Homo sapiens: one gene and its partner. The protein of the gene in region 2 purifies or fractionates together with the protein of the main gene of each other region. This does not show direct contact. Each region holds a gene or a part of one and is shown on either strand. Other genes may lie near its edges.

The links. Proteins that work in one complex are often made in the same cells at the same time.
Region 1: the proteins of ADCYAP1 (region 2) and SAV1 purify together in Homo sapiens (affinity purification with mass spectrometry; 4 studies listed by BioGRID and IntAct, with this or other methods). This does not show direct contact.

The regions. Positions count from the first base shown.
Region 1 is NC_000014.9:50,666,448-50,670,194, forward strand, and holds the start of SAV1 (protein salvador homolog 1), read right to left. Parts: upstream 1,860-3,747; 5' UTR 1,521-1,859; coding exon 1,427-1,520; intron 1,054-1,426; exon of another isoform or gene 935-1,053; intron 1-934. UniProt on the Homo sapiens protein: Regulator of STK3/MST2 and STK4/MST1 in the Hippo signaling pathway which plays a pivotal role in organ size control and tumor suppression by restricting proliferation and promoting apoptosis.
Region 2 is NC_000018.10:907,870-911,616, reverse strand, and holds part of ADCYAP1 (pituitary adenylate cyclase-activating polypeptide preproprotein), read right to left. Parts: intron 3,353-3,747; coding exon 3,254-3,352; intron 3,073-3,253; coding exon of another isoform or gene 3,027-3,072; exon of another isoform or gene 2,185-3,026; intron 2,172-2,184; coding exon 1,982-2,171; 3' UTR 1-1,981. UniProt on the Homo sapiens protein: PACAP is a neuropeptide involved in diverse array of physiological processes through activating the PACAP subfamily of class B1 G protein-coupled receptors: VIP receptor 1 (VIPR1), VIP receptor 2 (VIPR2), and PACAP type I receptor (ADCYAP1R1).

The DNA.
Region 1 (3,747 bases), on a different chromosome or scaffold from region 2:
TCATCAAGTAAACAATATTGGAGACACTCATATTAATAAGCTTCAGAAACTAACACTGGACAGAAACAAATATCTGAATAAATAAGGCTCAACACTTGATGTAACGACAACAAAACAAAGTAGATCAAAAGTTATTTGCTTAACTGTGACAAACATTAACAAAACTGCACGTTCTACACATGTACCCCAGAACTTAAAGTATAATAAAAAGTGTGACAAACATAATTCACGATTTCAAGTAATGTCTGATAAACTTTATTTGCAGCAAACAGCAAGCTATCACTTAAAAACAGCCAGAAACCTAACTGCATGTGTGACTGAAAATCAAGTTGTTAAAAAAAAAAAAAAACAACTTAAAAATCAAGTTTCGAGTTACTGATGTACTCAACTGACATATATTTTGTTGAAAGTATTGCAAGTACCACCATAAATCTGGAAGGCTGACAATGTGGTTATGATGGAAAAACATGCTCTCCCATCTGTGTGATCTTGGGCAAATACTAGAAACCTAACTTTCCCAATTACAATATGAGGTAATACTTAAGTCACAAGGTTACTACCAGCTTCCAAGAAGGAAACTTAAGCAAAGGGCCCAGGGCGCAGTAAGAGCACCAAAATACCAGCTCCATGCCTCACAAATGTCCTGAACACACAAGAATTAAAAATTCAAGAGATTCAACTCAAAAATCAAATACTTACATTAAGAAGAAAAGCAGCGGGGGACCGGAGGTGGGGATTGGGAGTGGGATCTACCCTATTAAAAAAAAAAACTTTTCGAGGGGGGGGTTCTCTAATACGATAGAAATTATTTTGAGTTGCCTTCTTGGAATCTCACGAATATAGCCAAATACAAAGGCTTTTGGCTCTCTGCTCTGCTGTGTAAGAGTGATGAGGCTTTGGGTGGCGGCTACAAGAACGACGGTATGCTTTTCACCTTCTCAAGTCTGCATCCGGCAGCAGGACTAAGGAATTCTGCCCCAGAGTTCGCACAACTTGCAGCACAGTCGAGAGACACCCGCAATGTTTGCAAACATGACGCACATCTCGACGCATCTAAAAGAGTAAAAAGTGTCCCTGTCTAATTACTTTTACTCCTATAGCATTAGGTGATAAGCAATTTAAATGTTTCCTACTCTCTCTTCCAGTAATCAAAACCAACAACTCTGCCTGGTGGGGCGAGGAAGTCTGTTATTTTTAGGGGGTGCTCTTGGGGGGGTTAGGCGCGGGGGGGACTAACCCAAGTTTCTTACTCTTATGGGCTTTCAATCAACGAATACCACTTCAGACACAAGAAAATCTCAAAACCAGTATTTCACGCGACCAAGGACGAAGGAGAAGCCCTGGAGACCCGCCGGCGCCCCCGCCAGGGTCCCCGGAGCACCTGGCCGCCTGGGCCAGGTGTGGGCACGCCCCGCCTGACACTCACTCCGAAGCAGAGGCGACGTCTCCTTCTTCACGTACTTCCCCTGCACCTCGGCCGGCTTGGACACTTCGTTTTTGGTTTTCTTTCGGGACAGCATCCTTCTCGACGAGGCCCGAGGCCGCGCTGAACTGCCTCCCTAGGGCTCCGCGCCGGGCGCCGGCCGTCTCCGCCGCCACCTCCGCCGGCGCCGCCGCCTCCTTCCCTCCCGAGCCGCCGCCTCCGCCGCCGCCTGTCCGGAGCCCGGGGTCGCCCGCAGGGACTGCCGCATGTTCAGGGCGCTAAGCGCGCCGGCCGCCGCTCAGTCGCTGGTCAGTTCCTTCCCGGAAGTCGGCCCGCTCTGCGACGCTGCTCGGGGACGCCGTGAGGAAAGCCCAGCGACGCCGGGCCAGGGCCAGGGCCATGGTCCGCCGCGGGCCGCCGAATAACCGCTACCACTACCGCCGCCGCCGCCTACATCCCGTAAACTTTCCCCGCGGCCGCTGGGAATTCTGGGAAGCTCGACGCAGCGCGGGCCGCCGCTGCCCCTCCCCCACCGCGGCTCCAGGCGCGGCTCCGGCGGCGGGACTCGGGTGCCGGCGCTCTAGGCTACCGGGCCGTCCCCGCCGAGCTGCGGCTGTCCTCACTCATCCTCAGCGAGAAGCAGGTCCTGCCGACTGAGAAGATGAAGGACGAAACCTGCCCCGCTGAGTGCGGGAGTTCGTCGCATGCGCATGTCGTGGAACCTACTCTCCACGAGTTTTTATTGTTGTTGCTTTTGTACCCCCTCGGGATCCCTAGCGGAGGCAGTGACTCTCTTTCCCCCCAAGACGTTGTTCCCTGTTTGAAGGTGTTCTTCCTAATGTTTCCTAGGCTGCTGAATTCAGCTCTCTAAAAAATGCGGAATGCTAACCATGACTCCCAGGCAAGTGCTACACCAAAGCATCTATTCTGCTGGAAACGTTCATGCTGATTAACTAGAAATAAGTTGATCCTCTACTGAGTATCAGGGAGTGCGTTTTTCTATAACAGGAAAAAACGGAAGAATGCAAGATGGAATTTCCAGTACCTCTTTTTAAGATACAATTGGTGTTAGCATATTACAATTATTTTATTGCATCATCACTATCATTAGTATGATTAATAGCCACATATTTCCTCCTGACGTTATGTGTTATGATCTTAGAATTTTGAAGACTTTGACCACTGCGAGTCGGGACCGGGAATTTTCTATCTAAAATAATAGACTCTACTTCCTTCTATATAACTTAGCAAGACTGCCAAATGTACAGGATAACATTTGGAAAATAAGATTGGATTCATCCCCTAGTGACCAAATTAATGCTTTAATAATGAGGAATGCTTTCCCTGAGATCTAAAACATCTCACAAGAGATCTAAGACATATATCACAATTAACAAAAGACATGGAATTTTTTACCACGTAAGATTAAGAAGATGGTCAAATGTTTTACCATGAGCAAACAAAGGAGACATTTGATCTAGTGTCTGTCTCCATATGTTCCCTTGGTGCAGATCTCCCACAATTCATTCATTAACCAGGAAATACTCATTACCCACTGCGCTAGTCGTTTGTGATAGAGCAATAAGCAAAACAGACAAAAATCCCTACTGTCATGGGAAAGAGAAAAAAATGACAAAAAATAAGCAAAACATACTATGTTAGATAGTGATAAGTGATGAAGTGAAAATAAGAGAGGACTCACAATTTTTGAGAGGGTAATAGAGGGACCAGAGAAGGCTCATGAGGAGGTGACATTGGAGTTAAGTGACAGAGTGAGGAAATTGGCCATGCAGCTAACTGGAGGAACAATATTCCAGGCAGAAAGAACAGCAAGTGCAAAGTCGCTGCAAGTGGCCATGTTCCTGGCAGATTGGAGGAACAGTAAGAGGGTTTATGTACTGGAAAAGACGGGGAGACGAATGGGGAATGCAGTTAGAGAGTAACAATAGCCACGGCACCTAGGGCTTTGTAGGCCATTGTAAGGAATGTTACTTTGAGCAGAGGAGTGACATGATCTGAGTTAATGTTTTCATAGGACTGCTTTGGATGCTGTGTGGAGAGTAGACAATGGAGCTAAGGGCAAAAGGGAGATCAGTCAGAAGTTATTGCTGGCTTGGACCCAGGCAATAATAGGTGGAGAGGTAAGTGGACATATTTTAGACATATTTTAAAGAAAGCCAACCAAATTTGCTGACATTGAATATGGAGTGTGGGAGTATCAATCACTGCCATGGGTATGAAAATCTTAATAAACAGAATTGGAACTCACTAGAAGCAGAGTGTACTCTGAGAGAAACATTAGAAAAACAGTTACTTGTTCCTGT
Region 2 (3,747 bases):
ACTCAGGCATAGACCGAATGCCTCTGTTTTCACTATTTGCAATGTGATCTCCTGGCAGCATCCATCCCGCCTGGGAATGCAAATCCAATTCTGTTTTCTTTGATTTATGACTTCATACTGATCAAATCCGTAAAGGAAAAGGAAAGGTCCTTTAAACTTTACAAGCTAACGTTTAATCTTTCCTTGTTCTTTTTTTTTTCTTCTTCTTCATCTTCTTTTTTCAAAACATAAAAAAATAAATAAATAAACTTGTGCCTGAAATTTGGGAGATTGGCTGGCTGGTTTGTCTGTTGCTGCTCGATCTGATTGCTGGGTGAAGGTTCTTTTGTTTATAAAGATTACTCTGTATGTTCAAAGAATTGACAGGAAACAGACATGCTTTCTTTAGCCAAAGAAAGGATACAAGCGTAGGTTCTCAGGGTCTGTTGGAGCTTGCTTACCTCACTCTTGACCACAGATATAAGATAGTACTCATACATATGAAGAAGAGGATTAAATGATTTATCAGTTAGCAAAACTGAGCAACATGTGAACACTACACATTCTAATATGACAAAGGTTGGTTTTATGAAATAAATTTTACTAAGCAATAAGCAATAATGTAGAAAAATACATTTTACCTACAAACTCAATAAACAAGAAACAAAGGGTTCATATTTAGTGCATAATTACTTACTAGTGGCTACAGAGGGGTTTCTAAAATTTACAATAAGTGCCTGCATCAAACAAAAAAAAAAAGTGAGAAGCATTCACAAGTTTAAGAGAAGTGAATGAAAAATGGTAAACAGTACTTAAACAGTGCAGGAGGGTAGGAAGGAGAGGTCTCCATAAAACCACAAAGGAAAAGGGTAGCTCCTACAGAGCAGGTTTCAAAGGAGAGGATCCTGGCCATTTCACAAGATGAGAAGCATGGACAGCACTGGAGAAAAACACATTGTACTTTGCATCCATTTCCAATACCCAGCGCCCAAAGTCAGGACCATTGGGACTGGATTTGCCCTCAGCTTCCCAGACCTGGGGCAATCTCAAACCAGTCCATTTCCAGGGTCCTCCTCCTACCACCTCAGGCTCTGCCTCTTCCAATATACCTCTATGTCCTTCACTTTGTTCCAATTGCCCTAATTTGGGGATATTAGATTCCCTGGCCACTCAGGAAGTACAGAAAAGAGAGCGGTCTAACGAAGCCGCCCTTTTCTGTACAGTTCCTCAACTCTTCTCCTAGGGAGAGGCGTGAATTCTGGGGAGAAGCACAATTTGGATCGAGCTGTTGTTTTATCAGGAGAATTTTCTTCTGGGCTGAGAGTCTGAAGAGAGACAACTACACATAAAAGGAGAATCAAAGAAAGCAGAAATATTGGAATTGCCACCCAACCAGGGGGACAGAGCCCAGTTGAGTTAGGCTGGGATTGAAGCAGCCTGCCCCAGAGACTCACTGGGAAAGAATGCCCTTCAGCAATTCTCCATATCTTTACCTCAAAATCTCCCTGGAGCAGGGCATCATTGTTTATGTACAGTAGCAAATGGTAAGTAGTAATATCTTCAGGCCTGTCATGGATAAAAATACTATCCTTTTAATTCCAGTTTACAAAAATAGGAGTAATATTCAAAACAATGATTGTCTACTTTTCTATTTATTTTTATAAAAACATAAACAGCTCGGGCGAATTTTCAATCCTTGTGCACGCTTTGTATGAACTTCTCTCTATACTTTATATATATATATATATATATATATATATATATTCTTTATATATATTTATAATATATATCAATAATTGGTCCACAAAGTATATCTGTGCATTCTCTAGTGCTTTGTAGAAAGAAAAACAATATTATTATCAAAATATTCATTTAATGGCTTTACTTCATTACATAAATACATGTTTGGATAGAACACACGAGCGATGACTGTTGAGTCAGTTTGGAAAACGACTTTTCATTGCGTCAGGGCTGTATACACAGGGTAGCTGGTAACCCATCGCTACAAATAAGCTATTCGGCGTCCTTTGTTTTTAACCCTTTGTTTATACCTCTTCCCTAGGACGGCCGCCAAGTATTTCTTGACAGCCATTTGTTTCCGGTAGCGGCTGTAGCTGTCCGTGAAGATCCCGTCCGAGTGGCGCTTGGAGAGCGGCTCCGCGTCGTCCCCCGCGCCGCCGCCGAGGCTCCCACTGCAAGCAAAGGGGTCGGGAAGAGGGTGGCGGGGCGGGAGACACAGGTTCAATCGCCGCGGGGAGCAGGCGGGCCCCACCCCACGCGGGAGCCTTCGGGGAGGGCCCGGGGCTCGCACTGCCCACCGCGTCGCCCGCCTCTGCCTGGAAGCAGCCGTGGGGAGGGCCGAGACGGCAGCCCCTCGATGCCCCCCTCCCCACGCAGGATCTCCTGGCACCAAACCCTGCGGAGGGGGCCCGGGATAAGATCCGGGCAGGCGACGCGCGCTTCAAGCCTAACCTTTCTCCCAGCGCTGCCCCCTTGAGATCCGACCCTTCGTGTGTTTGCGCTAAATTGTCCTCGCTGTTCCTCTCACCCGCGACATACAGAGAAAGTAACCGGAGAGCCCTACATATGCCAGTCTGGCTGCTGCCCTGGAGTTTGCATCGATCCTGCAATTCCTAGTCAAATATGAACACTCCTCTCCCTCCTCACGCCGAGTTGAAAAACGTGATAATAATATAAGTCGACAGGCTGTAGGCAATATTTTTCACTGCATGACTTATTCATGGCGAAAATGTAATCTGTTTTCCCACGGGCTTTATTAGAATGTTGCCTTCTGCCGAGATAGGCTTCACACAAGCCCTGTGCTCTCAGTTTCTCTGGCGTGAGCAAAACTGTTTGGGTCCATAAGTGTCCACATTTGGCCATTTATTATTTCGATTTGAATTTTCAGTAAATACAACCACCCCTTTCCCCTCCCCCAGAAACAGTCATGCTTAGAGAAAATTATAGCAAAACCTCCCTGGAAGCCTGAAGGTTTTGGATGACTGAGAGGTTTGGTTTGGTTTCTCTTTCTTTTCATTCAAAACGGATCAAACTCCCTGGCTCGCGTTCCCTTTTTGCCTCTTCCAGAGCTCTCTGGGCAAATTTAAAGTGCCACTTCAAAATCTCCAACTGCGACCCGTGGCGGATGCCCACCCCAGACCCAGGGGCGCAGACTCACCCTGGCCCCCACGGGCACCCACCGCCGCCCGCCCCGCGCGCCCCGCACAGGCACCCACCCCGGCGCGCGCAGGTTAATCCTTCCACAAACTCTTACCCCACGCCCCGGGCCACGAGCGACTGCAGGTGCTTCCCGGCGGACAGCTGGTCCAGCACTTTGCGGTAGGCCTCGTTAAGGATCCCGTGGGCGACATCTCTAACGGGGAGGCAAAGTGCGCGCCCAGGGTCACTGTTTCTGTCCCCAGGTGGCCGCTAGAGACCCCCTTGTTGGGCGCGCGCCCCCTCGGCGGCCGGGGAGGCTGACAGGGAAACCTCCAGAGGCCCAGAACTCGCCAATAACTCCCGGGATGATCTCGAGAGCAACTGCTAGGATCGGGAGCTAGTCCCGGCTCTAGGAGTGGCAGATGCGGAGTGTGGGTTCCTTGACGCCACTCACTGCCACTCTTTGGGCCACAGCCCCCCTCGGTCCCCACGCGGCCCTCAGGTCCACACAGACCCGCCCGCTGCTGATTTTCTGTCGCTGCAATAGGATCGGGCCAGGGAGAGGACAGGCTTGAGGACTTTCACGGGAAAAAAAAAAAAATCCTGGGT